7 linked regions of the Homo sapiens genome follow. The protein of the gene in region 1 purifies or fractionates together with the protein of each later gene. This does not show direct contact. Each region holds a gene or a part of one and is shown in the gene's direction. Other genes may lie near its edges. The genes, in order: VSIG1, XPO7, RRP1, INTS2, CDS2, SLC25A17 and INTS4.

The links.
Region 2: the proteins of VSIG1 (region 1) and XPO7 purify together in Homo sapiens (co-immunoprecipitation; 3 studies listed by BioGRID and IntAct, with this or other methods). This does not show direct contact.
Region 3: the proteins of VSIG1 (region 1) and RRP1 purify together in Homo sapiens (co-immunoprecipitation; 3 studies listed by BioGRID and IntAct, with this or other methods). This does not show direct contact.
Region 4: the proteins of VSIG1 (region 1) and INTS2 purify together in Homo sapiens (co-immunoprecipitation; 3 studies listed by BioGRID and IntAct, with this or other methods). This does not show direct contact.
Region 5: the proteins of VSIG1 (region 1) and CDS2 purify together in Homo sapiens (co-immunoprecipitation; 2 studies listed by BioGRID and IntAct, with this or other methods). This does not show direct contact.
Region 6: the proteins of VSIG1 (region 1) and SLC25A17 purify together in Homo sapiens (co-immunoprecipitation; 3 studies listed by BioGRID and IntAct, with this or other methods). This does not show direct contact.
Region 7: the proteins of VSIG1 (region 1) and INTS4 purify together in Homo sapiens (co-immunoprecipitation; 3 studies listed by BioGRID and IntAct, with this or other methods). This does not show direct contact.

Annotation. Positions count from the first base shown.
Region 1 is NC_000023.11:108,048,065-108,051,564, forward strand, and holds part of VSIG1 (V-set and immunoglobulin domain-containing protein 1 isoform 2 precursor), read left to right. Parts: intron 1-3,500.
Region 2 is NC_000008.11:21,982,162-21,985,661, forward strand, and holds part of XPO7 (exportin-7), read left to right. Parts: intron 1-478; coding exon 479-651; intron 652-2,484; coding exon 2,485-2,678; intron 2,679-3,424; coding exon 3,425-3,500.
Region 3 is NC_000021.9:43,788,283-43,792,376, forward strand, and holds the start of RRP1 (ribosomal RNA processing protein 1 homolog A), read left to right. Parts: upstream 1-1,294; 5' UTR 1,295-1,347; coding exon 1,348-1,480; intron 1,481-3,067; coding exon 3,068-3,150; intron 3,151-4,094. UniProt on the Homo sapiens protein: Plays a critical role in the generation of 28S rRNA.
Region 4 is NC_000017.11:61,889,983-61,893,482, reverse strand, and holds part of INTS2 (integrator complex subunit 2), read left to right. Parts: intron 1-1,793; coding exon 1,794-1,970; intron 1,971-3,500. UniProt on the Homo sapiens protein: Component of the integrator complex, a multiprotein complex that terminates RNA polymerase II (Pol II) transcription in the promoter-proximal region of genes.
Region 5 is NC_000020.11:5,125,831-5,129,807, forward strand, and holds the start of CDS2 (phosphatidate cytidylyltransferase 2), read left to right. Parts: upstream 1-1,177; 5' UTR 1,178-1,262; coding exon 1,263-1,319; intron 1,320-3,977. UniProt on the Homo sapiens protein: Catalyzes the conversion of phosphatidic acid (PA) to CDP-diacylglycerol (CDP-DAG), an essential intermediate in the synthesis of phosphatidylglycerol, cardiolipin and phosphatidylinositol.
Region 6 is NC_000022.11:40,812,847-40,816,346, reverse strand, and holds part of SLC25A17 (peroxisomal membrane protein PMP34), read left to right. Parts: intron 1-2,388; exon of another isoform or gene 2,389-2,464; intron 2,465-3,500.
Region 7 is NC_000011.10:77,921,669-77,925,168, reverse strand, and holds part of INTS4 (integrator complex subunit 4), read left to right. Parts: intron 1-276; coding exon 277-419; intron 420-501; coding exon of another isoform or gene 502-523; exon of another isoform or gene 524-1,718; intron 1,719-2,697; coding exon 2,698-2,813; intron 2,814-3,500. UniProt on the Homo sapiens protein: Component of the integrator complex, a multiprotein complex that terminates RNA polymerase II (Pol II) transcription in the promoter-proximal region of genes.

The DNA of each region.
Region 1 (3,500 bases):
ACGATCTCGGCCCACCGCAACTTCCGCCTTCCGGGTTCAAGTGATTCTACTGCCTCAGCCTCCTGAGTAGCTGGGATTACAGGCATGCACCACCACGCCCGGCTAATTTTGTATTTTTGGTAGAGACAGGGTTTCTCCATGTTGGTCAGGCTGGTCTTGAACTCCCAACCTCAGGCGACCCGCCCACCTCAGCCTCCCAAAGTGTTGGGATTACAGGCGTGAGCCACTGCGCCCAGCCTAAAAATATTTTTAAATGTTGATTAAGTGTGTACATCTTGGATTATTTTTCTTTAATAATAAGCACTTTTTTAATTATTATTATACTTTAAGTTTTAGGATACATGTGCACAACGTGCAGGTAAGCACTGGTTTTTAAAAGAGATTACACATATTTCAACCACATATGCATTTTTGTTTTGTTTTTAAATTTGGTCAAGTCAGAGAGGGACATTGCGTTCTTGGGTTTTGTTTAAATCAGATACTAATCTTTACTTTGCTATTTATTCACAGTCCTATTGATGTAGAGATTTTTCTGACTTATTCAATTTTTAAATAATTTCTCAACTTAGAATGACTTAATCCAAAGGAAGGGAACTTTTTTCCCTGACACTCAGAGAATCACCTCCACTTTAGGACTAAGTTTGCACTGCCCATTGTCTACATGTGGCTATTGAAATTTAAATCACTTCAGATTAATGAAAATTATAAAGTCAGTTCCTCAGTTTCACTAGCCACATTTCAAGTGTTTGATAATTCTATTTGGGCTACTGAACTGGATGGCGCAGAGATAGAACATTTCCATCATCACAGGAAGTTCTGTTGGACAGCACTGTAAGGGTGAGCTCAGAGGTTTTAAGTAATGTGCACTAATTGAATGATGTGACATTTTAAAAAGGCTCATCTGGAAATATATAACTTTTAGCTCTGAAGCATATCATCACTATATCATGGTTGGACAATGTCTGAAAAACATCTTTTCTTCAGAATTTAATTGGTTATGGTGCTAAGAATTGGGAATCTGGGCAATAAAATGGCCTGGAGGTTTTGCTTTGCCAACTGTTACTTATTTACATGACAATGTGTAGTACCTCAAAAAATATTGTCTCACTTTAAAATTTGAAATTACCATCCTAATTCCAAGGTGATATTATTAAACTTTTGCAGATTTCTAATTAGTTACACATTTATATATCTTCTATATTTAAAATGTTAGAAATGTTTGAATCAGATTTATATTTTCCAAATCCTTGATTTTCATTCACCTCTATTCTCATCTGTGCTATAAATGGCTTCCTGCTGCACTGAGGGATGGCAGAGATTGTGTCTGTCATGTTCATTCTTGTTTCCCCAGTGTTCAGCACTGTTTGTGGCACAAAATGGGTGCTCAATTGATATTTGTTGCTAGGCTCCACAGCCTCTTCCATGGCTTGACTTGTGTGAGTACTGTGTGTACTCTGCCATCAAACACTTTTTCCAAGAGTGGTCTTCAAAGGGGGTTTGTGGGGTTTTGTTTATTGTTTTGCCTTATCTGTTCATAAATTCTCACCCTTAACCAATCTCGTAACAGATACTGGGTCCCAAACTAGAGAACAAAAATTATGGCCAAATAATATCTCTAAAATCTCTGTTTTTAGGGAATAAGTCTGGGAACTTTAAGGGCTACCAAAACCCCAGTTTTATCCTTTTTATTTTGGACACTTTAAAGACATTTGGAAGTCATCATTTAAGCACGGCCAGAGATGTGGCTAACTTCCAGGAGAAATGAAATGGGCTCTTTGAGGGTGGGAGGGAACCATCTTTCTCCAGTGAAGTTTTTGTTGGAAAGATTAGCTGCTTTCTGAAAGCCAATTTCCTTTTTGGAGGAGGCATTATGGAAACCAGGAAAGCATGGGGAGGAGAATATTGGGAAGAGGGAAACTGTATGGAGTTAAAAAGTGCTGCATTTTTGTTTGCATTCAGGCACTTTTCTTAATTTATCAGTGCATTGGTTGCCATGTAAACAGCCAGCTTCTGGCAGGAAAGCAGCTGGACCAGGTGACCTGGCTGTGACAGAGAACACAGATATTGAATCCATGAAACCAAGAGTAATCAGTACAACGATTTTTTTTCTTTTACTTTTTAAAAGTGTTTGTCAATCCTTTAAGTTCTTTTTGTCTGACTGCTGTCATTAAGTAAGAAAAATATGAAATAAATAAGTCTTTGGGTATGCAAAATTGGGAAGATGGACAGGAATTAGTCCCTCTATGCAATTTCCTCTGAATCTTTCATAATTTCTGTATCCTCATCCCTTCACCCTCAACCCTCCAACACCCTCTGTTACCCTGCAGGCAACTAGGACAGCATAGAGAGCGTCTCTTGAACTTGACTTTCTCTTCCAGTGCTTGCCTGCCAATCCCGTGACCCATCCTGGAGAACTTTTATAGTCTTCGACAATGCAATGCATAGCAACCAGTTAATAAGATAAGACAGTGACTGTATAGTGCTCCCCAAAGTGCCATCACCTAAAATAGCCCTTTGGAAAGTGCTCATATAGAACTGAGAATTTTAGTGTAGTGGCAGGCTGGATTTGGGTAGGGTGCCCTTCGGTGGGCCTCCAAATCCTATGGGGAGCTTAATTACTTCATCTTTCTGTAAGGCCAACAGTTCTCAAAATTTGTGGTCTCAGGACAATTTTACACTCTTAAAAACTGAGGGAGATTTCTGGTCTGGACATGTAGTACAGACCTGTTTTTCATTGTTCCTCCCTGCTAAGCACAAGTATAAACCCTGGAAATAATGCAAGAGACAACCAGGGTAGAACTCTGGAAGGTTGTAAGGAGAAGGCAAACTGGTTTGAGACCCAGGGAAAAACAAAGAGCAAGGGTATCCTATGTTTCCCACCCAGCAGAAGAAAGAAACCTAGTCCTGGCCATTCCTGATACCCAACTGAACAACAGAGGGCAGCCCAGGTAAGCTTACTCCTCCCTCAGAGTCCCTCTGACAACATCAGGTAGGCCCAACACCACAGGTAAGGGGGGATCTTCAGAAACCCCACCAACAACAGTGGACAAAAGAAGCATTTGCCTTCTCCCCAGGCCTGAGATGTCCCACTTTCACCTAGAGATATCGAGGTGGGAGGGTAGAACAGACACGAGGCATAAAGTGATGGCAAGCGGCCCAGTCTGGGAAGGCTCTGTCTCAGTGGGTGTATGACTGTCCTCTCCTACCCATAGAGACACCAACAGTGCAGGGCGCCAGTAGAAGTGTCCCACCATACCTACCCCAACTGAGAGGCACCTGGAAGCCTGACCTAGGGAAACCTTTCTGCTCCTTCAGGCGATATGATCTGGGACAAATGTCAGCCTCAGTGATATCCGATAAACCAAACAGAGCAAAACAATACTGAAAATTAAACTGCTGTTAGAACAACAGACCACAAAAGTAAGCCAACACCTGCTTGCATGTGAAGCATAAATAATGTGACTGACTGCAAAAATAAAAAATGTAAATATGAGTTTCCT
Region 2 (3,500 bases), on another chromosome or scaffold:
ACAGAAGAGTAAAAAGAGAGTTGATGCCCTCTCTTTCTTAGTCATGTAATATAGAACAATGGGTCTCAAATTTTATGGCTTGTATCACAGTCATCTAGGGGACTGATGAAAAAATATAGATTCTTGAGTCTTATCCCCATAATTTCTGGTTCAGTAGGTCCAGGGTAGAGCCTTGGTGTTTCTAACAAGTTCTTCAGGTGATTGTCATGCATACTAATGGTTGAGACCCACTTACATATGGCTTTCCTTATGGTAAGGCTTACACAGCCAGCATAGAGTAGCCCTTCTCATTAGATGCTTAATCTTGAAAATACTAATAAACACATTAAACTAGATGCCATACACAGAACAAAGCCCACAAAAGTCTATCCTCTTTTTTTAAAAAAAAGAAAAAAGTCTTTATCTTCTGTGTCAGTGGCATGGGACTAACACGTACAGAAATGAAAAATATGCCTTCTGCTTTTCTACTTTTCTTTAGCACTGGGAATTTGCTCCAAATAGTGTGCACTATCTTCTGAGCCTGTGGCAGCGGCTGGCAGCCTCTGTGCCGTATGTCAAAGCCACAGAGCCCCACATGCTGGAAACTTACACTCCTGAGGTCACCAAAGCCTACATCACATCCCGGTTGGAATCTGTGCACATCATACTGAGGTAAGGAAACTTAGCCTCATTCATTCCCGCACCAGTGGCCTGTTGTCACACTTCCTAGAGATCAGACACCCCATTGGCAAAGAGGTACTCGAAGCGTGTCTCATTGGAGCCACTACTGTTCATGGTTCTTCTTCCTTGTCAGCAGAGTAGCATGAGAGCATAAAGCCTGATAGAATAGTCTTGTCTCTTGAACATTTATATTCTATTCATATTCCCCCTTTTCACTGTCCATAGCAATATCTTTGAATAGAGTATATCCATATAATGTTTGTCCTTGCCGCTGTTTTTCTTTCAATGTGAGAAACATTTATAAGATATAGATGATAAGAATTATGTGTAACTTATAGGTGCTTAATGTGAACTCCTAAAGAAATAAGTGGATAAAGATTACACAATCTAGTTATCAATTCTAATTCCAGAGCTAGAACACATAAGAATTCTAAGCCACTGATCACTGATTGCTTTACATTCATACATGGTTTCTGTCTACATTGACTTAACTGAACCAAAATCCCGTAGCTAAAGAAATGTCAAGCCCTTTCAAAAATTACCTATATTAAATGAAGTTATAGCCCTGTTTAGGTAGCTTTCTTGTTTTCACTGGCTGTTTGTCAAGAGAATTTACTTGGAGTCTAAGGGTCTGGGGCCTTTTTAAGTTGGATTCTTAATTTGCTTAGCCCCAAGTGCATTGAATAGTCATGAGTTATAGTCTTAACTGTTGATGACTTGAATCAGTTCAAAATCTGAGTATTCATGAAGTTCACCAGCAAGCCTTCTTCTGTCACCTCCATAGCTTCCACTCCTGAGGATTCGGCTGGCTTCAGTGAGGCATTGTTGGGGAGTGGTTACATGTTTGTAGGCTCTGGGGCCGGATAGCCAGTTAGTAGCTCTGTACTCTTGGGCAAGTTGCTCCATTTCTGTATTTGTAAAATTCAAATAATAATAGGCCTGCCTCATAAGGTTCTTACAAGGATTAAATTAATATGACCTGGCACAGTGTGTAGCACATGGTAAGCACACAGCTAGTTTTAGTGCTGCTGCTCCTGCTGCTGCTGCTGCTGCCATTATCATATTGCAGTGTAACAACAGAAGAGCTCCTCATTGGACAAGATGTTAAAATCTAGGAGCTGGCAGATAAGGCAAGACCTAGTACAGGGCCACAATGCCTTGTCTGCAATTCCAAAGTCAAAGATGTGACAAAAGAAATTTCCTCATCAGTTTGGCATTAGAATTCACTTGTTACAAAACCGGACGGGAGTTGGTATGAGACCATTTGTAGTTTTTTTAAAATCCTACTTAGTATGACCATTTATAATATTCATAAGTTTTGCTACAGGAACGTTGAGTTTGATGTGCCACAAAGCCCATCAAGGGTTTTATATGATATGGTAGAAGCATCATACTGCCTTCCTCCAATTTGAACAGTTCTGAATTCCAAGACACACCTGGCCACAATGGCCTCCCACACAGGACTGTGTACTTATCCTACAGTTTACTATAGTCAAGAACAAGCGAAAGACTAAGAGTCAAGAGGTCAGACAGTTGAGAAGGGCAGGACTTTGAGGTTTAAGGCAGAAAAACATTAAGAGTTGAGAATTCAGATTGTAAGATTTGACACCAACAAGCAGAATATACCTAAGGGAGACTGATGCTAGGGCGAAGACATTGGCCTTCTGCCTCATTAAACATTCTTCCTTGGTTAAAAGTAATGTCGGGATGTAGACCTCTACAGTCAGAAATGGTGGCTAAGTGAAGAAGTCAGAGAGCTGCTATATTGGGCAAATCAGTAGTCATATTTTAAGAGAGCTGCCTTCCTTCTTCCCTTGGGAATAGAGATGGCCTGGAAGATCCCCTGGAGGATACGGGGCTGGTCCAGCAGCAGTTGGACCAGCTGTCCACCATTGGGCGTTGTGAATATGAGAAGACGTGTGCACTCCTCGTGCAGTTGTTTGACCAGTCGGCCCAGTCGTACCAGGAGCTGCTACAGAGCGCCAGCGCAAGCCCAATGGACATTGCAGTGCAGGAGGGTGAGTGTGCAGCGTGCTGGGAACTCTAGACCTGTGAGGAGATGTTGTCTAGTACCCCTTCGCTCATTGCCACCTCTTTCCTACCTCCCTGCAAAAGGATTCTTTCATCATCTGTTGTCTCCATATGCACAAGAATCTTTATGAATGAATAAATCCCTCAAGGGACTAGGGAAGAAGAACTGAAATCACATCTGCAGTGGGATTTTGTTTTAAGAGATGAGGTCTCGCTATGTTGCCACGTGGGCCTTGTACTTCTTGGCTCAAGTGATCCTCCTGCCTCAGCCTCCCGAAGTAGCTGGGACTACAGGCATGTGCCACCACACCTGGCTCCTGTCTGCTTTTTAATGCCCCACAGCACAGCTGGGACCAGGCCAAGAGGTTTATGACTGCTAAATCAAGGGCCAGGGGAAACAGGGAGATAAGTACAGATAGTAACCTGGGCTTCCTCTTTTTACCGGGCCTGGCTGGTGTTTGTAACATGGCACTGTGCCCAGCTTGGGTGTTTTTAACTCTAAGGAAATACTACACTAAAAATAATGGCCTTGTCTGATACAGGAACATTGGTTACCTAACGAATTTCCCTCTTAGCATTGCCCTTACCAAAGCAGAGAAGTAGCCATTCTCTGTAAGAAAAGTAAGACTTCATGGTTTCACCACAGTGTTCTTAAGATTAAGGAAGTTCAGAGTGAGGAATGTCTTCAAGAAACTATCACTGGAGGTGACACTGGGTCTGTCTCCTGCTGCAGGAAGGCTGACATGGCTGGTTTACATTATTGGAGCAGTGATCGGTGGCCGGGTTTCTTTTGCCAGCACTGATGAGCA
Region 3 (4,094 bases), on another chromosome or scaffold:
GTAGACGCCACACTTGTATTTTTTTGAGACGGAGTCTCACTCTGTCACCCAGGCTGGGGTGCAGTGGCGCGATCTCGGCTCACTGCAAGCTCCGCCTCCGGGGTTCACGCCATTCTCCTGCCTCAGCCTCCTGAGTAGCTGGGACTACAGGCGCCCGCCACCACGCTCAGCTAATTTTTTGTGTTTTTAGTAGAGACGGGGTTTCACCGTGTTAGCCAGGATGGTCTCGATCTCCTGACCTCATGATCCGCCCGCCTCGGCCTCCCAAAGTGCTGGGATTACAGGCGTGAGCCACCGCGCCCGGCCAACGCCACAACTGTTAACAGTGTGCCATAGTTGCTTATCTGCATACACATATGTGCGTGTAATGATTTACTTTTTTGCAGAATGAATTACAGACATCATGACAGGTCACCTTTACCAAAGAGTTCTGCAGTTATTTCTAAAAATAAAGAATATTTTTCTACTTCAGGGTATGTCAAACTGTGGCCCTAGGCCAAATGCAGCCTCCCCGTTTTTTTTTTTGTTGTTGTTTTTTGAGACAGAGTCTCACTCTGTCGCCCAGGCTGGAGTGCAGCGGCGCAATCTCGACTCACTGCAACCTCCGCCTCCCGGATTCAAGCAATTCTCCTGCCTCAGCCTCCTGAGTAGCTGGGATTACAAGCGCCCGCCACTACGCCTGGCTAATTTTTGTATTTTTAGTAGAGACAGGGTTTCACCATGTTGGTCAGGCTGGTCTCAAACTCCTGACCTCGTGATCCACCCGCCTCAGCCTCCCAAAGTGCTGGAATTACAGGCGTGAGCCACCGCGCCCGGCACACCCCTGGTTTTAAAAATAAAGTTTCGAGCCGAGAGTGGTGGCGCCCGTGGTCCCAGCTCCTCGGGAGGCTGAGGCTGGGGGATCCCTGGAGCCCGCGAGGCAAAGGCTGCAGTGAGCCGAGATCGCGCCTTGCACTCCAGCGTGGGTAACAGAGCGAGACCCTGTCTCAGGAAAAAAATACAAGTGGGGTTATAAATAAAATGAGATTAAAAAACAACAGATCTTTGCCTCAGAATCCCGACCCACCGCAGCCCCAGCGAGGCGCAGGCGCAGGCGCAGGCGCGCGCTCGCTGGTTCCGCCCATGCGCACAGGCAGGGAGCGCGCGCCCCCTCTGTAGCCTTCGGCCTCCGGGGGCTGCAGTTGCGCGGCTCGGCCACTGCGCGGCGGTGGCGTGCGCCTGGGCGGTGTCGCGGGCTGTGACGTCACGCCACGCGCCGGGGCCAGGAGGAGGCGGGCGCAGGAGGCGCGTGCTCAGTGTGCTGGGTACCAGGCGACTCCGGGACAGGGGGTCTCGGCCGTCGGCGTCATGGTTTCGCGCGTGCAGCTCCCGCCTGAGATCCAGCTGGCTCAGCGCCTGGCGGGGAATGAGCAGGTGACCCGGGACCGGGCGGTGAGGAAGCTCCGGAAATACATCGTCGCCAGGACTCAGCGGGCCGCAGGTTGGCGGGGGTGTGGGCGGCTGGCGTCTCGGGGGCCGGCTGGGCTGGTGCGGGTGTGGGCGGCGGCGGCCGGAGCTGGGGGCCCTCCGAGCCCTGTGGAACCTCCACGTGGCCGGGCCGGGCAGGCGGGGTCCACTGGCCTGTTCCCGCTGTTACCGGCCCACGGCCCCCGCCGCCGCTTTCCCTCGTGGTGCGGTGACTCTGGTCCCTCTGCGAGAACGCTCCTCCCCAGCCCCGTAACCCCTTTCCTAGCTCAGGCGTCCCCTCCCTCCAGTAGACCATGTACTCCTGCTGCCCTGCTGTTTGGGCACCCAGTATTTTTCCCTCATGGCAGCATTTCCCACTGTTTGCAGTTTTCTGTTTTGCGTTAATTATTGGATTGTTTTCCGATTTCCACTCGAGAGTACCTCTCTGAGGGCCGAGAATCTACTTCTTGTTCATGGTACCAGGTGGTTCTCCGAGCGTGGTCCCCCATCAGCAGTAGCATCCCCTGGACATTTGTTAGAAATACACGTTCTATGCCGGGCGCAGTGGCCCAAGCCTGTAATCCCAGCTACTTGGCACGTCGATGTGGGAGGATCACAAAGGCCCAGGAGTCCAGCCTGGGCAACATAGCAAGACTCCATTTCCATCGCAAAAGAAAAGAAAGAAATGCAAGTTCTAGGATCCCAGCCCTACTAAATCAGGACTGGCATCTGCTTTATGAAGCTGTTCAAGTGCTTCTGCTCCCCACACTCAGCCTGAGAACCACTGCTGCAGGAACAGGTTGCCAGACACATAGGACTTCAGTGAATGTCAACTGAGTAATGTTTTAAATTAAAATTTTTTGTTATTTTTCTGAGTGAGACAGACCTCACTGTCATCCGTGGTGGAGGAGTGCATTGGCACGATTACAGCTCACTGCAGCCTCTACCTCCCAGGCTCAAGTGAGCCTCCCATCTCAGCCTCCCCAATAGCTGGGACTACTGGCACCGTGCGGCCAGGCCAGCTAAGTTTTGTATTTTTTGTACAAATTGGGGTCTTCCTATGTTGCCCAGACTGGTCTTGAACTCCTGGCCTCAAGTGATCCTGCCTCAGCACTCAATTCCAAAGTGCTGGGAGTACAGGCGTGAGCCACCGCACCTGGCCTCAGTAATTTCTGTTTCTCTCGTAGTCTGAATGCCTGAGTTCACTTTCTTCTTTTAGTATTTGAGATATATTACAGGAGAGTGCAGAAGCCCTCAGTATAATGCTGGATGAATTATCACCAACAGATTAACCTTGTGGCCACTGTCCAGCTTAGGAAACCGTCAAGGTTCGCAATTTTGAATTTCCAAAATGGAGTATGGTGCCTGATACCTTGTAGATCTCAGTCGGTTTTACTGTGTGCGTGAAGTAGCAGTTACCTGGAGTAGCCGCATAGCCACAGGCGCGGCAGGTTCTGGGTTAGAAGGATTGTTTGAAGGGGAGGGCCAGATTCTGCCCCCCAGTTGCCTTTACCGTAAGTGGGACTTTGGTCTCATTCAGGCAGTCACGTTTCTGTGGCTTCCTTTCTGGCACTCGAAGGTGTGGGATTCATTTGGTCCAACCGTTGCTGTTTTGATGCAGGTGGTTTTACGCACGACGAGCTGCTGAAGGTGTGGAAAGGACTGTTTTATTGCATGTGGATGCAGGACAAGCCACTCCTCCAGGTGAGTGGGGGGAGCAGCAGAGCAGGTACAGAAGCAGCGGGGGAGGATGGATGGGCATCTGGTCAACCCAGTTTTTCTTTTTTTTTTAAGTCGGAGTTTCGCTCTTGTTGCCCAGGCTGGAGTGCAGTGGCTCAATCTCGGCTTACTGCAACCTCAGCCTTCTGGTTTCAAGCAATTTTCCTGCCTCAGCCTCCCAAGTAGCTGGGAGTACAGGTACCTGCCACCATGCCTGGCTAATTTTTTGTATTTTTAGTAGAGACAGAGTTTCATCATGTTGGTCAGGCTGGTCTCGAACTCCTGAGCTCAAGTGATCCTCCCATCTCGGCCTCCCAAAGTGCTGGGATTACAGGCATGAGCCACCGCGCCCGGCCTGGTCAACCCAGTTTTAATATGGCCAGAGACCGTGGGGAGGTCGTATAGCCTTGACGCTTGGTTCGGCACGGCTGGTGGGCCTGGGCCTTTGTTAGGTGAGTCTTACACTTGCTGAGGTGTTGATGTGATTGACTGAGCCGTGCACTGCAGCAGCACTGGCATGGGTGAAAACTGGGTTTTGTGTTTGTCCTGGGTTGCAAACAAGTGCTGAAATAGTGGAAACCACGGGGCGGAATTCAAGTCTCCTGAGACAAGGACGTCTCCTGCTAGCCTTTTCCAAACATTGTTTCTCAAATTGTGAATTTTGTGCTCTCCTTCAAAATCTCCTGGGTGGTGAGGGTACTTAGTTAAGTTCAGGTTCCTGGGCCATATTCCATGCCCACTGAATTATCAAGGGGAGGCTGTGAAATGTCCCTTAGCAAGTATTCTGGGCGATGGCTGGCACGGTGATGTAGGCAGATAGCCAGTGATCTATGGGGTCTCGCAGCCCTCTTCCTCCTGATGGTTAGGGGGCTGTGAGTCCCAAGGCTCCCTTCCGCTCTCCCACGTCCCTCTTTAACCGTGACTCTGTG
Region 4 (3,500 bases), on another chromosome or scaffold:
CTCAAGTGATATGCCTGTCTCAACCGACCAAAGTGCTGGGATTACAGGCGTGAGCCACTGTGCCTGGCCTACATTTATATTTCAAAGAACAACCTAAATTAATGCTTTCTCCCCAGTTGTATTTCAGTTTGTAGGCATTTATTGTGGGTTTTGTGTAGGAAATGTGTGGTATTAAGCTAAGTTACTAGTCATTTATATAAGTATAGTAATTAGGGATAGTAATTATAATTATATAATTATACAGTAATTTCAGATTTTTAAAACAATGTAAGATTTTCAAAATGCATAATACTCCATTTAAATTCTCAATAGTGGCACATGGCTATTTTATTAAAACTTAGAAACTGCCATTTTCTAATTTTTTTTTTTAATTTTAAAGACAGGGTCTCACTCTGTCGCCCAGGCTGTCATAGCTCACTGTAACCTCAAACTCCTGGGCTCAAGCAGTCCTCCTGCCACAGCCTCCTAAGTAGCTGGAACTACAGGTGCGAGCCACCACTCCTGGCTTTTTTTTTTTTTTTTTTTTTTTGAGATGGAGTCTCACTTTGTTGCCCAAGCTGGAGTGCAGTGGTGCTATCTCAGCTCACTGCAACCTCCGCCTCCTGGGTTCAAGTGATTCCCCTGCTTCCGCCTCCTGAGTAGCTGGTATTACAGGCTCCTGCCACCATGCCTGGCTAATTTTTTTTTTTTTTTAATTTTTAGTAGAGACAGGGTTTCACCATGTTGGCCAGGCTGGTCTCAAACTCCTGACCTCACGTGATCCACCCACCTCGGCCTCCCAAAGTGCTGGGATTACAGGCATGAACCACCGTGCCTGGCCTCATACCTGGCTTTAAAAAGTGTTTTTTTGTAGAGACAGGGTCTCGCTATTTTGCCCAGGCTGGTCTGGTCTTGAACTCCTGGTCTCAAGCAATTCTCCTACTTCGGCCTCCCGAAGTGTTGGGATTACAGGCATGAGCCACTGCAGTGGGCCTGGTTTTGTTTTACAAATTGGGGAAGCTGCCATGACTAGTATTTGTTGATTTGTCATAAGGACACCTCACACCTAACTTAGAATTTTGACATGTTTTGATTTGTCTTAGTTGGCTATATCTAACAAGTTAAAAGGCCCTCTAAAGAGAAGGTATTAAGACCCAGGAGGTAAAGTAGACTGAAACTTTTTCAGATATTTACAAAGAACAGTGAATAATATATGCATGATATATCACTTTTTAATTGTTGCTTGTTTTTTGTGATTTAGTGAGATTATTTTCCAGCCAGATTGCATCATCTGCTTTATATTTTTAGCAAGTAAAATAGCTAAGAATTAAGAGTTCACATGCACCCCCAACATTTTACATGTCCTCCATCCAATGATAGTTAAGTGATAAGTCTCCTGTAAGTGCTTTTCAGAGACATTTTCTTAGTCTATCTGAGGGTTTGCTGTGAAGGACCTATCTCTCTCTCTCCAAATTCCTATCTAACGTGAGCTCTCCCATGACGACACACATGGTGCTCTAAATACAGATATGGTAGGGACTTAAAATGTTTTTCCCACTACTTAAAAACTAATAGATTAAACCGAAAGGCAAGCTTCTAGTGGAGGGTGCACCTAAGATGATACAGATATAATGGTAGTTCATATTTTAAAATCAAAGGCAGTTATGATACTAGATAATATATTTGGAACTGCCAAAAGTTAATAGTGAGTTTTACTGATTCATAATTCATGTAAAACTGTATGTACTTTTATAATTTTGCTTGGTTTTTCTTTTTGCCACAATTAATTCAGTGTCTATAACATTCTTTCTTAGGATTGGATTTATAGACAGCTGTGTGAAACCTCTACTCCACTTCATCCTCAATTACTTCCTTTGATTGATGTGTACATAAATTCTATACTTACTCCTGCGTCGAAATCTAATCCAGAAGCCACAAATCAGCCAGTCACAGAACAGGAGATACTCAATATTTTCCAAGGAGTCATTGGGGTAAAATAGTGGTTCTTTTATATCTATTAACTTATTTTTCTTTTAGTTCTTCTTACTTAACCCATATTTTTATTTTCCTATCAGAGGACTTCTAGGTAGTTCTGAATTTAAAATTAGATTAAATTTCCTTAGATCACCTCTAAAAATTAAAAGAATGGTATTAGTTCCAAGTAGTTTGCTAAACAGGCACTTTTTTTTTTGAGATGGAGTTTTACTCTTGTTGCCTAGGCTGGAGTGCAGTGGCGCGATCTCAGCTCACTGCAACCTCCTCCTCCCTGCAACCTCTGTCTGCCGGGTTCAAGTGATTCTCCTGCCTCAGTCTCTCGAGTAGCTAGGATTGCAGGCGCCTGCCACAACGCCTGGCTAATGTTTTGTATTTTTAGTAGAGACAGGGTTTCACCATGTTGGCCAGGCTGATCTCGAACTCCTGACCTCAGGTGATCTACCTGCCTCAGCCTCCCAAAGTGCTGGGATTACAGGTGTGAGTCACTGTGCCTGGCCTTTTTTTTTTTTTTTTTTTTTTTTTTTTGAGACTGGAGTCTTGCTGTGACACCCAGGCTGGAGTGCAATGGGCAGTCTCGGCTCACTACAACCTCCGCTTCCTGGGTTCAAGCGATTCTCCTGCTTCAGCCTCCTGAGTAGGCTGGTCTCAAACTCCTGACCTCAAGTGATCCTCCTGCCTTGGCCTCCCAAAGTGCTGGGATTACAGGTGTGAGCCACTGCGCCTGGCCAGTAATTTTTTTTTTTTTAAGCTTCACTTTAAAGTCTAATGGGTTCCCTGGAGATTGTGTATTTGATCAAGTACTGTGTGGGATATCAAGATATTCAGCATAGGTTTGTTTAGCATCCTGGGAATCTAAGATACACCTACATTCATTTAGGGGGATTTTTTTTTTTTTTTTTGAGACAGAGTCTCACTCTGTTGCCCCGACCGGAGTGCAGTGACACGATCTCAGCTTACTGCAAACTCTGCCTCCTGGGTTCAAGTGATTCTCATGCCTCAGCCTCTCGAGTAGCAGGGATTACAGGCACCTGCCACCACGCCTGGCTAATTTTTATATTTTTAGTAGAGACAGGGTTTTACTATGTTGGCCAGCTGGTCTCCAACTCGTGACCTCAGGTGATCTGCCTGCCTCAGCCTCCCAAAGTGCTGGGATTACAGGTATGAGCCACTGCTCCTGGCTCATTCAGGGAAAATTTGATGAAAGTATTTTTTCCCCAGTTTGTTAGAAGGGAAAAACAGTTGCATTTTTCACAAATATATTTAAGTATACAATGTCTTATTTAGGAGTTACTTTTTTCATGGTAATTTCATATAATACTTGGGACTCCTGTCTTTCAGAAGCAGCCTGATGGGTTTGCTATTGAGTAGTAGCTGAAGTCTTTTCTTTGTCTTATCTTAAAGACCACTTAAGCATGTTGCCTTTCATCTCTCATGCCATCTCAGATTTCATGTTGTTTTTTTGAGTTTAATACACACACAGCAACATTTCTCCTGTTTTACCTGAGTTAGGAGCAGCAATGCTGAAT
Region 5 (3,977 bases), on another chromosome or scaffold:
AAGTACTTACAATGGATGTGTCAAAGACATAGAGGATGCACAGTAAACAAAGTAGACAGCACTTCTGTCCCAAAAAAGGTCTTTCCATAGTCCAGAAGACAAATTTGAAAAACTGAGGAAGGGCCAGGCTCGGTGGCTCACGCCTGTAATCCCAGCACTTTGGAAGGCGGAGGCGGACGGATCACCTGAGGTCAGGAGTTCGAGACCAGCCTGACCAATATGGTGAAACCCCGTCTCTACTAAAAATACAAAAGTTAGCCGGGCGTGGTGGCGCGCACCTTGGAATTGTTTGCGCCCGGGAGGCAGAGGTTGCAGTGAGTCGAGATCATGCCACTGCACTCCAGCCTGGGCGACAGAGCGAGACTCCGTCACAAAACAAACAAACAAACGAACAAACAAACAAACCACTGAGGAAGATCTTAACTGTAAAATTCAAATCATACCCACTTCCAAGCCATGTGTGGATTAAACGAGATAAGCCAACTAAAGCGATTACTCAGCTCAGTGCCTAGTATACAATTAGTGCTTAACAAGTACTAGCGACCGCTTGGCAAAGCAAAGCAGACTGAAGCGTGGGTTTCATTTCTCATCATGTGATAAGTGATAAAATGCTCTTAACCAGGTCGGCTCACCTGGCCTTTCCATTCGACCTAAATAACGTCTACTTACTTGCGTAAGGGAAGAGCTCTGGCCCAGGTCAGCAAGCATTTGTCAGGCTAGAGCCTCCGGGTGGCGCTTCTCGCCCTCAGTAACCGGTTACCTCCAGAACCAGGGCGCCAGCTCCGGCCATCCGCGGTTAAGCGGGAGCTCCCATTGGCTAATCGCACACTGAAACGCACGCCTTTTCCCGCCCCTGACGCTGCCGTCCAATGCGCGCCTCTCGACTCTGCTCCGCCCCGCCCCGCCCCCGTCGCCCTGCCTCCCTGGCGTATTTGCGCCATTGGTGGATATTCCGGACCGTGATGGTGGCGCTGCGCGTGCGCACTCGCTCCGAGCCCTGCTCCCGGGAGAGGGAGCTCTCGGGTCGGGGCTAGGGAAGGCTGACCCCGCTCGGCCCGGGTGAAAGGGCGGTGACGGCACTGGGTGGGGCCGAGCTCCAGGGCTGGCTGCTGGGCTGCTAAGGGAACTGTGAGCCGCTCAGAGCCGCGCGCCTCCCGGGCGGGGCGGGGCCGGCCGTGGGAGTCCGCGCGTGCCCGCGCCGAGCTGCCTGCTCCGGCGGCTTCGCTGCTAGCTCGCGGCGACGTCGGGCCGATTTTCCCAGGATGACAGAGCTGAGGCAGAGGGTGGCCCATGAGCCGGTTGCGCCACCCGAGGACAAGGTAGCGGCAGCGTCGGGGTGGGCGCGGCCGGGACAGCGGCGCATCCGGGAGGCCTGCGGGGGACGCGCGCAGAGGGGTCGTCTTGTTCTCTGACCCTTTGTCGCAGCCGACGGCGGCCCCGGGCCCGGGTAGCGCGAAGGGCCCTCGGGTGCCCGGCCTTCGCGGCGCGCGCGTCAGGGGTCGGCGGGTCGGGGTCCCGGCTCAGGGTCTGACTGAAGTGGCTCCCCCGGGGCGCAGGAAGGAGCTTCTCGGGAGTGGCGCACGGCCTCCTGCCTCGCTGGGCTGGCTGCGGGGACTCCCCTCTCCCCCAACTCCGTGAGGCCTTCCTGGAGGTGAAGATATGCAGAGCCTTCTTAGGGAGGCGGCTCCTCTGAGCGCAACTTAGGCTCTCCGTTCCCTTTTACAATGTTATTATTTTGGGGGGTGGGGGAATCAGGACAAGGCCATAGCATTTGCCTCCTGGGAGATGTAAATCCCTTCTTGGGCATGAAATCATCGGCTTTGAGCAAAGGGGTGTTACCCAGTGAGCCAGTCCGTCATCAGCAGGTGTTGGAGGGCGTCCTCCCGGTTGATGGGTTGTTTCCTGCACCGTGTGGGCTCTGGTGGGTAGGGGAGGAGAGTAGGAAGGAGGCCATCTTGGCGGGGACAGTGGCGGGGGTGACGGGTGGGGGAGTGGACTCCTTTGGGTGAAGTGAAAGATCTGTGTAGGGGAGTTAAGGAAGGTAGGGATTGGTTTTATTACTGTGGAGGTTGAATGGCAGTATAGGACTTTGTAGCAGTAGTTGTGCTTTCCGAGATAGCAGTGATCAGGAGCCCTGTGTTTGGGAAACTGATCAGACAGTGATGTGTAGAAGGGACTGAGGGAGCCTGGACCAGACTGAGGGAGCCTGGTTCACTCGGGATTGCCCATGAGTGACCTGTAGATGTTTTCTTTGGCCCACATATTGCCTTAAAAATCAGAAAGTTTCTCCTAACAATCTAAATTTCTTGCCTGTCTTAGATAATTGGAGGGTCCACCATCACTTTGTCACCTGCTCAATGGTTGGCTGGAGCTGAGGATCATCGGTTCCCACCAATCCCTGTTGCCTTACACCAGGCTCACGGCTTCCCCTAATGCAGCCTGTAACTTTTTGATGACTGGACGCAACGGACATTAGGGAGACACCCAGAAGGAAGAAAGCACAAGATTTGGTGACAGGATGTCAACAGAGCAGTTACACTAGGAGGAATGTTTTTGGTGAAAGATAATGAGATCATGGGTTTTTTTTAAACAACTTTCGTGTTATTGCAGTTGACAGTGGACTATCCAAAGAGAACTGTTCCTACCGATTTTTAGAACATATATTTTGGCCAGGCACAGTGCTGCTCGCCTGTAATCCTAGCTTCTAGGGAGGCTGAGGCAGGAGGATCGCTTGAGCCCAGGAGTTTGAGACCCTGTCTCAAAAAACAAAAACAAAAACATATTTTGGAGAACATTTAGGGCTGGGGCTGAGGATTTAGCAGTCGCTTGCAGAGACAAGATACTTTGAAGTCTCTAATTTTTCATTTGGCTATCCTGGTTCAGCCTGAAAGAATTCTGACTTACCTTGTACTACTAGTTGGTGAGTATGCAGATGTTTGGAGGCTCTGTAGCTCTGTTTAAGGGTGAGATCATGCTTGATGTTAGTGGGACTTTGTGGACCTAGAAGGTGTGAGGAGAGAGAGAAGAAAGAAGGCATGATAGCTGGTGGGCCATGTTTTTGAAAAGCTAACTATGTACAATAATTAGAATGTCAAAAAACAACCTTGGGATTATGAGATGCAACATAAAGATTCTACCCTCCTTCCCGGACTCGTTGGATCCATCCCCCAGAGATAAAGTGCGAGTTGAACCGTCTTACTTTCACATCCTGTACTTTAGACTGGGAGGACCTGAGGAGCTGTCCAGCTAGAGGTGCACTTATATCACTTATACAGTGACAGAATGCCTGGGGTCATGAGGTCCACTTGTGGCGTGTTGTTTCCTAAAAGACAGCTGCTATGCACTCTGTTAAAAGCCTGATGTTCATTACCGAGAACAAGACAATCAGTTCCTCACCCCATTATTCAGAACTTCTCAATTGTCACTGAATTGTCATGTATGGGATTTTATTATTATTATTTTTTTAGACGGAGTCTCTCTCTGTCGCCCAGGCTGGAGTGCAGTGGCACGATCTCAGCTCACTGCAACCTCTGCCTCCCAGGTTCAAGCTAGTCTCCTGCCTCAGCCTCCTGAGTAGCTGGGACTATAGGCATCCGCCACCACGCTCGGCTAATTTTTTTTTTTTTTTTTGAGAGGGAGTTTCGCTCTTTTGCCCAGGCTGGAGTGCAATGGCATGATGTTGGCTCATCGCAACCTCTACCTCCCAGGTTCAAGCAATTCTCCTGCCTCAGCCGCCCGAGTAGCTGGGACTGCAGGCGTGTGCTACCATGCCCGGCTAATGTTGTATTTTTAGTAGAGGCACGGCTTCTCAATGTTGGTCAGGCTGGCCTCAAACTCCCAACCTTAGGTGATCCTCCCGCCTCAGCTTCCCAAAGTGCTGGGATTATAGGCATGAGCCACTGTACCTGGCGTTTTTTTTTTTGTATTTTTAGTAGAGATGGGGTTTCACTGTATTGGCCAGGCTGGTCTTGAACTCC
Region 6 (3,500 bases), on another chromosome or scaffold:
CATAGTTTTCTGACTCCTGCTATAGAGAGAGTGACTGGCAATAGTGGTAATATATTTCTATTTAATCTACAAAGATACTTCTTTTTTTCACTTGTTGCCTATTTTTCTCTTTTTTTCTTTTTCTTTCTTTCTTTCTTTTTTTTTTTTTGAGATGGAGTTTCGCTCTTGTTGCCCAGGCTGGAGTGCATGGAGTGCAGTGATGCAATCTCGGCCCACCACAACCTCCGCCTCCTGGGTTCAAGCGATTCTCCTGCCTCAGCCTCTCGCCGAGTGGCTGGGTTTACAGGCATGTGCCACCACGCCTGGCTAATTTTGTATTTTCAGTAGAGACGGGGTTTCTCCATGTTGGTCAGCCTGGTCTTGAGCTCCCGCCCTCAGGTGATCCGCCTGCCTTGGCCTCCCAAAGTGCTGGGATTACAGGCGTGAGCCACTGCGCCTGGCCTGGAATTACTTTTCTAACTTTGTTTATGCCTGAATCAAAAACGATTAATGAAATTATATCGTCATACATAGTATTGTATAACTTAATTTTTTAAGAAGCAAATATGGCATAATAGCTGAAAAAAAAGGTTCTGTAGTAAAGCTTAACTATGAATGCCATCATCAATCGAACTATAAAACAGGGACAATAACAATGCCTCACTTAACTGGGTTCTTGTGGGAAGTAAATGTGATTATATTTGTGGAGCATCTAGCATAATGGAACGTTGTAGTAAGACCATAATTATTCATTTCTGTCTCAAGTATATTCTTGCAAATACAGCACTTATACCTAGTTTTAGAAATTTAAGGGAATTGAAATGTTCTCTTGCCTCATGGCCATCTCCACCCATTCCCTTCACTTGTTGCAGATGATCTTACCTTTTACTCTCTAGATAAAATAGAACCTACTTGGGATGAGTTTTTTCAGTTTTTTCCAATTACAGTTGTACTCGTGTTTTCTACATTCTGCTGGTCTCAGAGGAAAAATAGACATATTCAGTGTCTGCTACCTTCAATCTTTGTCCTCCCCTCCAGCCCATGGCCAGTTTTCTTCCAGGACTTTGCTCCAGTAATTTTCATCTCTTTCCTATAGCTTTAACCTAGTATCTGCTTCTGTTCAGCCCTCAAACATGGTCAGGTCTGTCCCATCAGAAAACTATACCAATCTGATCTGGAATCTGGTAGCTTCTTCAGCCTCTGCCTGTTCTCTTTCCCTTTGTGCTAAGCTTATTTAAAGAATATTCTGGGCCGGGTGTGGTGGCTCACACCTGTAATCCCAGCACTTTGGGAGGCTGAGGCGGGCAGATCACGAGGTCAGGAGATCGAGACCATCCTGACTAACACGGTGAAACCCCATCTCTACTAAAAATACAAAATATTAGCCGGGCATGGAGGCAGGCGCCTGTAGTCCCAGCTACTCGGGAGGCTGAGGCAGGAGAACGGCATGAACCCGGGAGGTGGAGCTTGCAGTGAGCCAAGATTGCGCCACTGCACTCCAGCCTGGACGACAGAGCAAGACTCCGTCTCAAAAACAAAAAAAACCAAAACAAAACAAAACAACAACAACAACAACAATATATATATATATATATATATATATATATATATATTCTGCACGTACTGCCTTTCCTCATCCTACTTTGACCACTGGAACTGTTCTTCCAAAGGTCAACTCTGACTTCCTAACAGCTTAATCTACTATTGTGAATGGTTTAAGGTCATGGATAACCAGGTACACACACATTTGTGTCTTTTCACAATGTCAGACTTTTATTGTGTTATTTCAGTTATAAAAGACAAGTTACATGGAGTTCTCAAGGAGGCAATTTTTATTAGTACTTCTCATTCACTAGGTAGTCAGTCAATATTGTAAATCATATATAATAGTATACCTAATTAATACATAAATGATGTAGATTAAACATTCTGCAACAAAGTAACATTGAACATCAAGAGAAAAGGGTGAGGAAAAAGGGTTACCTAACCAGTCCGGGGAGAGTGATATAGACAAGTATCCTGGTTTCATCATGGCAGTGTGTTGGTCTTGTAAGAAAGAATCCTTGATGTGGGCAGAGCCTTTGGACACAGATATCAGGCTTTTATAACAAGTGACAGCAAGACAGTGTCTGTTAAGACCATTTTGAGTTTTTTAAGTCCTGTTCTTTTTATGGTCACAGAGTCTTCTGGTAAGGACTGATAGTGGAAGAGCATGCTTGGTTGTGTCTTTATCTGGAAAAACATCTGGTCCCTGTTGTCAAAGTGCTTTTTGAAATGAAAGATAGGAGTCTTTTTCTAAGATGGAGTTACTTATGTCAAGAGTGCTCTATACATCTACTGACTGTTTTTGCATTCTTAATTGATTCCAGTTCTTTGTAAGTATTCTATACTGTTGACCCTTCTACCTTTCTGAAGCTCCTTCTGAAAGAGCAGTTGGTGTTTATTTTTTACTAAATAGCAATTGCTCTTTTGGAAGGAACTTGAGAAGACATTACTCCTTTTAGGGCCCTAAAATTAACAGTGGTTTCTACTACTAACAGATACTATAGCTATAAAGGACATGTAGAAACCAACAATTGTTGAGTGCCACCTGTGTGCCTGGTATGATGCTAGGTGCCAACCATAATTTTTTGTTTTTGTTTTTGAAACTCAGTCTCGCTCTGTCGCCCAGGCTGGAGTGCAGTGGCGTGATCTCGGCTCACTGCAAGCTCCGCCTCCTGGGTTCACGCCATTCTCCTGCCTCAGCCTTCCGAGTAGCTGGGACTACAGGTGTCTGCCACCACACCCGGCTAATCTTTTTGTATTTTTAATAGAGAGGGTATTTTTTTTTTATACAGAGTCTCGCTCTGTCACCCAGGCTGGAGTGCGGTGGCACGATCTCGGCTTACTGCAACCTCTGCCTCCCAGGTTCAAGTGATTCTCCTGCCACATCCTCCAGAGTACCTGGGACTACAGGTGTGTGCCACCACTCCTGGCTCATTTTTGTATTTTTAGTAGAGATGAGGTCTCACCGTGTTGGCCAGGCTGGTCTCGAACTCCTGACCTCAAGTGATCCACCCACCTCAGCCTCCCAAAGTGCTGGGATTGCAGGTGTGAGCCACCATGCCCAGCTACTTTCCATAATTTGATTCTAACTTCTCATAGCAACCTTGACAAATACCGGTCTCAAAATTACAAATGAGGAAATTGAGACATAGAGATTTGAAGTTACTTATGTAATATATACTATACTTGGGACGTAAACCTATATTTTATCCCTAAACACTCGAGAGTGTCATCCATGAGGCCATTTGTGTAACTTGCCTATCTGTCTGTGTATGTATGAGTTAGCTTGATTGTTATGTCAGGGAAAAGACTTACATTAACTCTGATGAGGTGAATAACATTTTTAAATATGAAAGCCATTGTAAGTGGCTTTTAATCTTTAGAATTTTATTAGCTCAAACCACAGAAAACATCTTAGGTGGTTTTTAAAAATTTTTTTAAATTTTTATTTGTTTTGAGACTAAGTCTCACTGTGT
Region 7 (3,500 bases), on another chromosome or scaffold:
CTAGTTGCAAAAAGGCTCTTGTACCTTCAGCATCATGATTGAGTTCCAGATAGGATGGAAAAGGAAGGTTAAAGAACAAAGGGGATAAAGCTACTGCCTCTGGTCCTTTATCAATAAAATGAAAGATATTTCAGGAATTTCAGCTAAAAAACTTCCACATACTTTGTTACATGGCCACCCTAGATGGGAAGGTGGCTGGGTAGAAGGGGATGGTAGATAGAGGCTGAGTCTGCTAACCAACAGTAACTACTGTTATTATTACTTTTTTTTTAAAAGGATTCATCCAGAGATATTCGAGAGGCTCTTCATGAACTCTTATGCTGTACTAATGTTTCAACCAAAGAAGGGATTCATCTTGCATTGGTGGAGCTGCTGAAAAATTTAACCAAGTACCCTACTGATAGGGACTCCATATGGAAGTAATGACTTTTTTGCCCATTTACTCACTGAGTCCCATAATGTGGTAAATGTATAATGCTGACATTTGTTCCGTCCTTATAGATTGAGGATAGTACGGCCCTGAATTTTGCCTTTACTTTAGAAACCTGATTCAACTTAACCGAACTCTCAGGAATCTGATTCCTAAGCTGAGTATCACATTTTAGATTACTTACTAATTTGTGCATCTATCCACCTAGCAAATATTATGTGCCTGCTGTGTGCTGACTATGCACCAACCCTTGTGGTAGCTGTTACAAGTATAGAAATAAATTAATTAGATTTCCTCTTTCTCCTATATAGTGTTTTGTTTTGTTACTTTTTTTTTTTGAGACGGAGTCTCGCTCTGTCACTCTGACTAGAATGCAGTGGCGTGATCTCAGCTCACTGCAACTTCTGCCTCCTGGGTTCAAGCGATTCTCCTGCCTCAGCCTCTCGAGTAACTGGGATTATAGGTTGCATGCCACCATACCCCAACTAATTTTTGTTTTTTTTTTTAGTAGAGATGGGGTTTTACCATGTTGGTTAGGCTGGTCTTGAACTCCTGACCTCAGGTGATCCCCCTGCCCCGGCCTCCCAAAGTGCTGGGATTACAGGCATGAGCCACTGTGCCTGGCCTTATTATTTTTTATTCATTAAGTTCTGGTTTAGAAGGTGCACTAAATTGGCTGGGTGCAGTGGCTCACGCCTATAATCCCAGCACTTTGGGAGGCTGGGGCGGGTGGATCACCTGAGGTCAGGAGTTCAAGACCACCCTGGCCAACATGGTGAAACCTCATCTCTACTAAAAATGCAAAAATCTGCCGGGCCTAGTGGCACACGCCTGTAATCCCAGATACTTGGGAGGCGAAGGCAGGAGAATTGCTTGAACCCTGGAAGCAGAGGTTGCAGTGAGCCGAGATTGTGCCACTGCATGCCAGCCTGGGCAGCAGAGCAAGACTCAGTCTCAAAAAAAAAAAAAAAACCATAAACAATAATAAAAATATATAATTACCTTGCTTTTATAGTTCCTTATAGTTTATAAAGGGCCCTCATGTAGTTATAATAGCTAACATTGAGTTCTTACTATGTGACAGACACTTTGCTAAGTACTTTATGTTAGTTATTTAATGCGTATAGCAACTCTATGAAGTAATGACTTTTAATCTCATTTTGTAGATGAAAAAATTTACTTGCATAAGGCTACTTAGTTTCAGACAGATCTGTGATTTCAGGACTTCACCCAGGATATCAATCAGAATGTTTTTGCCCACAAATAAAAAAGACAATCTGATTAAAAATATCTTAGCCAATAAGTCTGTTTTTTCATAACAAGTGGTCAGAAGGTTGGTTTCAGGATTCGTCATTCAACAGGTTACCAGGGCTCTCTTTGGTTTCTCTGCAGTTCTCTTGGCTTTTTTTTTTTTTTTTTTTTTGAGACAGAGTCTCTCTTTATCGCCAGGGTGGAGTGCATTGGCATAATATTGGCTCACTGAACCTCCGCCTTCCAGGTTCAAGTGATTCTCCTGCCTCAGCCTCCCGAGTAGCTGGGACTACAGGCCCGTGCCACCATGCCCAGCTAATTTTTGTATTTTTAGCAGAGATGGGGTTTCACCATGTTGGCCAGGATGGTCTTGATCTCTTGACCTCCTGATCCAGCCACTTCGGCCTCGCAAAGTGTTGGGATTATAGGCGTGAGCCACCACACCCGGCCGGCTTTCTTCTCATAGTTGTAAGATGGCTGCCTCATAAGATAATATCTCAAGACAGAAAGGAAGGGTCATTCCCTTTCATGCATTGCTCTTTTGATTTGCAAAAACATCCCTGAGAAGCTCCCCAGCCAGCATACTCTCGTGCTCCATTGTCTAGAACTGGCTTACTTGCCCACCAGCAAACCAGTCACTGGAAAATGGGAATGGGATTGCCATGATGGGTTTAGACCAATAGTGGTTCAGCTCTTGGGCTGGACCTGCCTTTTCCGAGCACTTTGCTGCCTGCCTGATACCTGAGTAAAATCAGGGCTCTCTCAGGAAGAAAGATGGGGGAAATGGCTCTTGGTTAAATAACCAGTTCTTTTATCTTTATAATAACCAGTTTTTTTAGATGAATTAACCGAGTTCCAGAATAACTGGGTGACTTATCTGAAGTCATAGAGTTAGCAAAAGTATATGGTTGAGAATTTCCAATTCCAGTTCAGGTTTTCTGATTCCAGTTCCTAGTACTTTTCAAAGGACTAACTTTACTAATTTGTTGATGTGCATTCTTATTTGTTTGTTTCAGGTGCTTGAAGTTTCTGGGAAGTCGGCATCCAACCCTGGTGCTTCCCTTGGTGCCAGAGCTTCTGAGCACCCACCCATTTTTTGACACAGCTGAACCAGACATGGATGATCCAGCTTGTATCCTCTGTGCTTAGGATGGGCCCTGATGTGTTGGCAGGCAGCTTTGGCATCTCCTTCTGCAGTATAGCTAGGGTAGTCTGAATTTTCTTTTCTTTGCTTTTCTTTCTTTTTTTTTTTTTTTTTTGAAGACAGAGTCTCATTCTGTCACCCAGGCTGGAGTGCAGTGGCCTGATCTCGGCTCACTGAAACCTCTGCCTCCCGGGTTCAAACAATTCTCCTGCCTCAGTCTCCTGAGTAGCTGGGATTATAGGCGCCCGCTACCACACCCAGCTAATTTTTGTATTTTTAGTAGAGATGAGGTATCACCATGTTGGCTAGGCTGGTCTCAAATTCCTAACCTGTTGCTTGGGCTGGAGTGCAGTGGCACCACCCCAGCTCACTGCAACCTCCGCCTCCCGGATTCAAATGATTCTCCTGGCTCAGCCTCCCAAGTAGCTGGGATTACAGGTGCCTGCCACCACTCCCGGCTAATTTTTGTATTTTTAGTAGAGACGGGGTTTTACCTTGTTGCCCAGGCTGGTCTCAAACTCCTGACCTCAAGTGATCCACCCACCTCAGCCTCCCAAAGTGTTGGGATTACAGGCGTGAGCCACCATGCCTGTCCAGTATGTACTTTGATAGGCAATATAGTTGCTTACTTTATAGGCAAAATCATTTCCATTTTTTGTATTCTTGGCAGTCTCT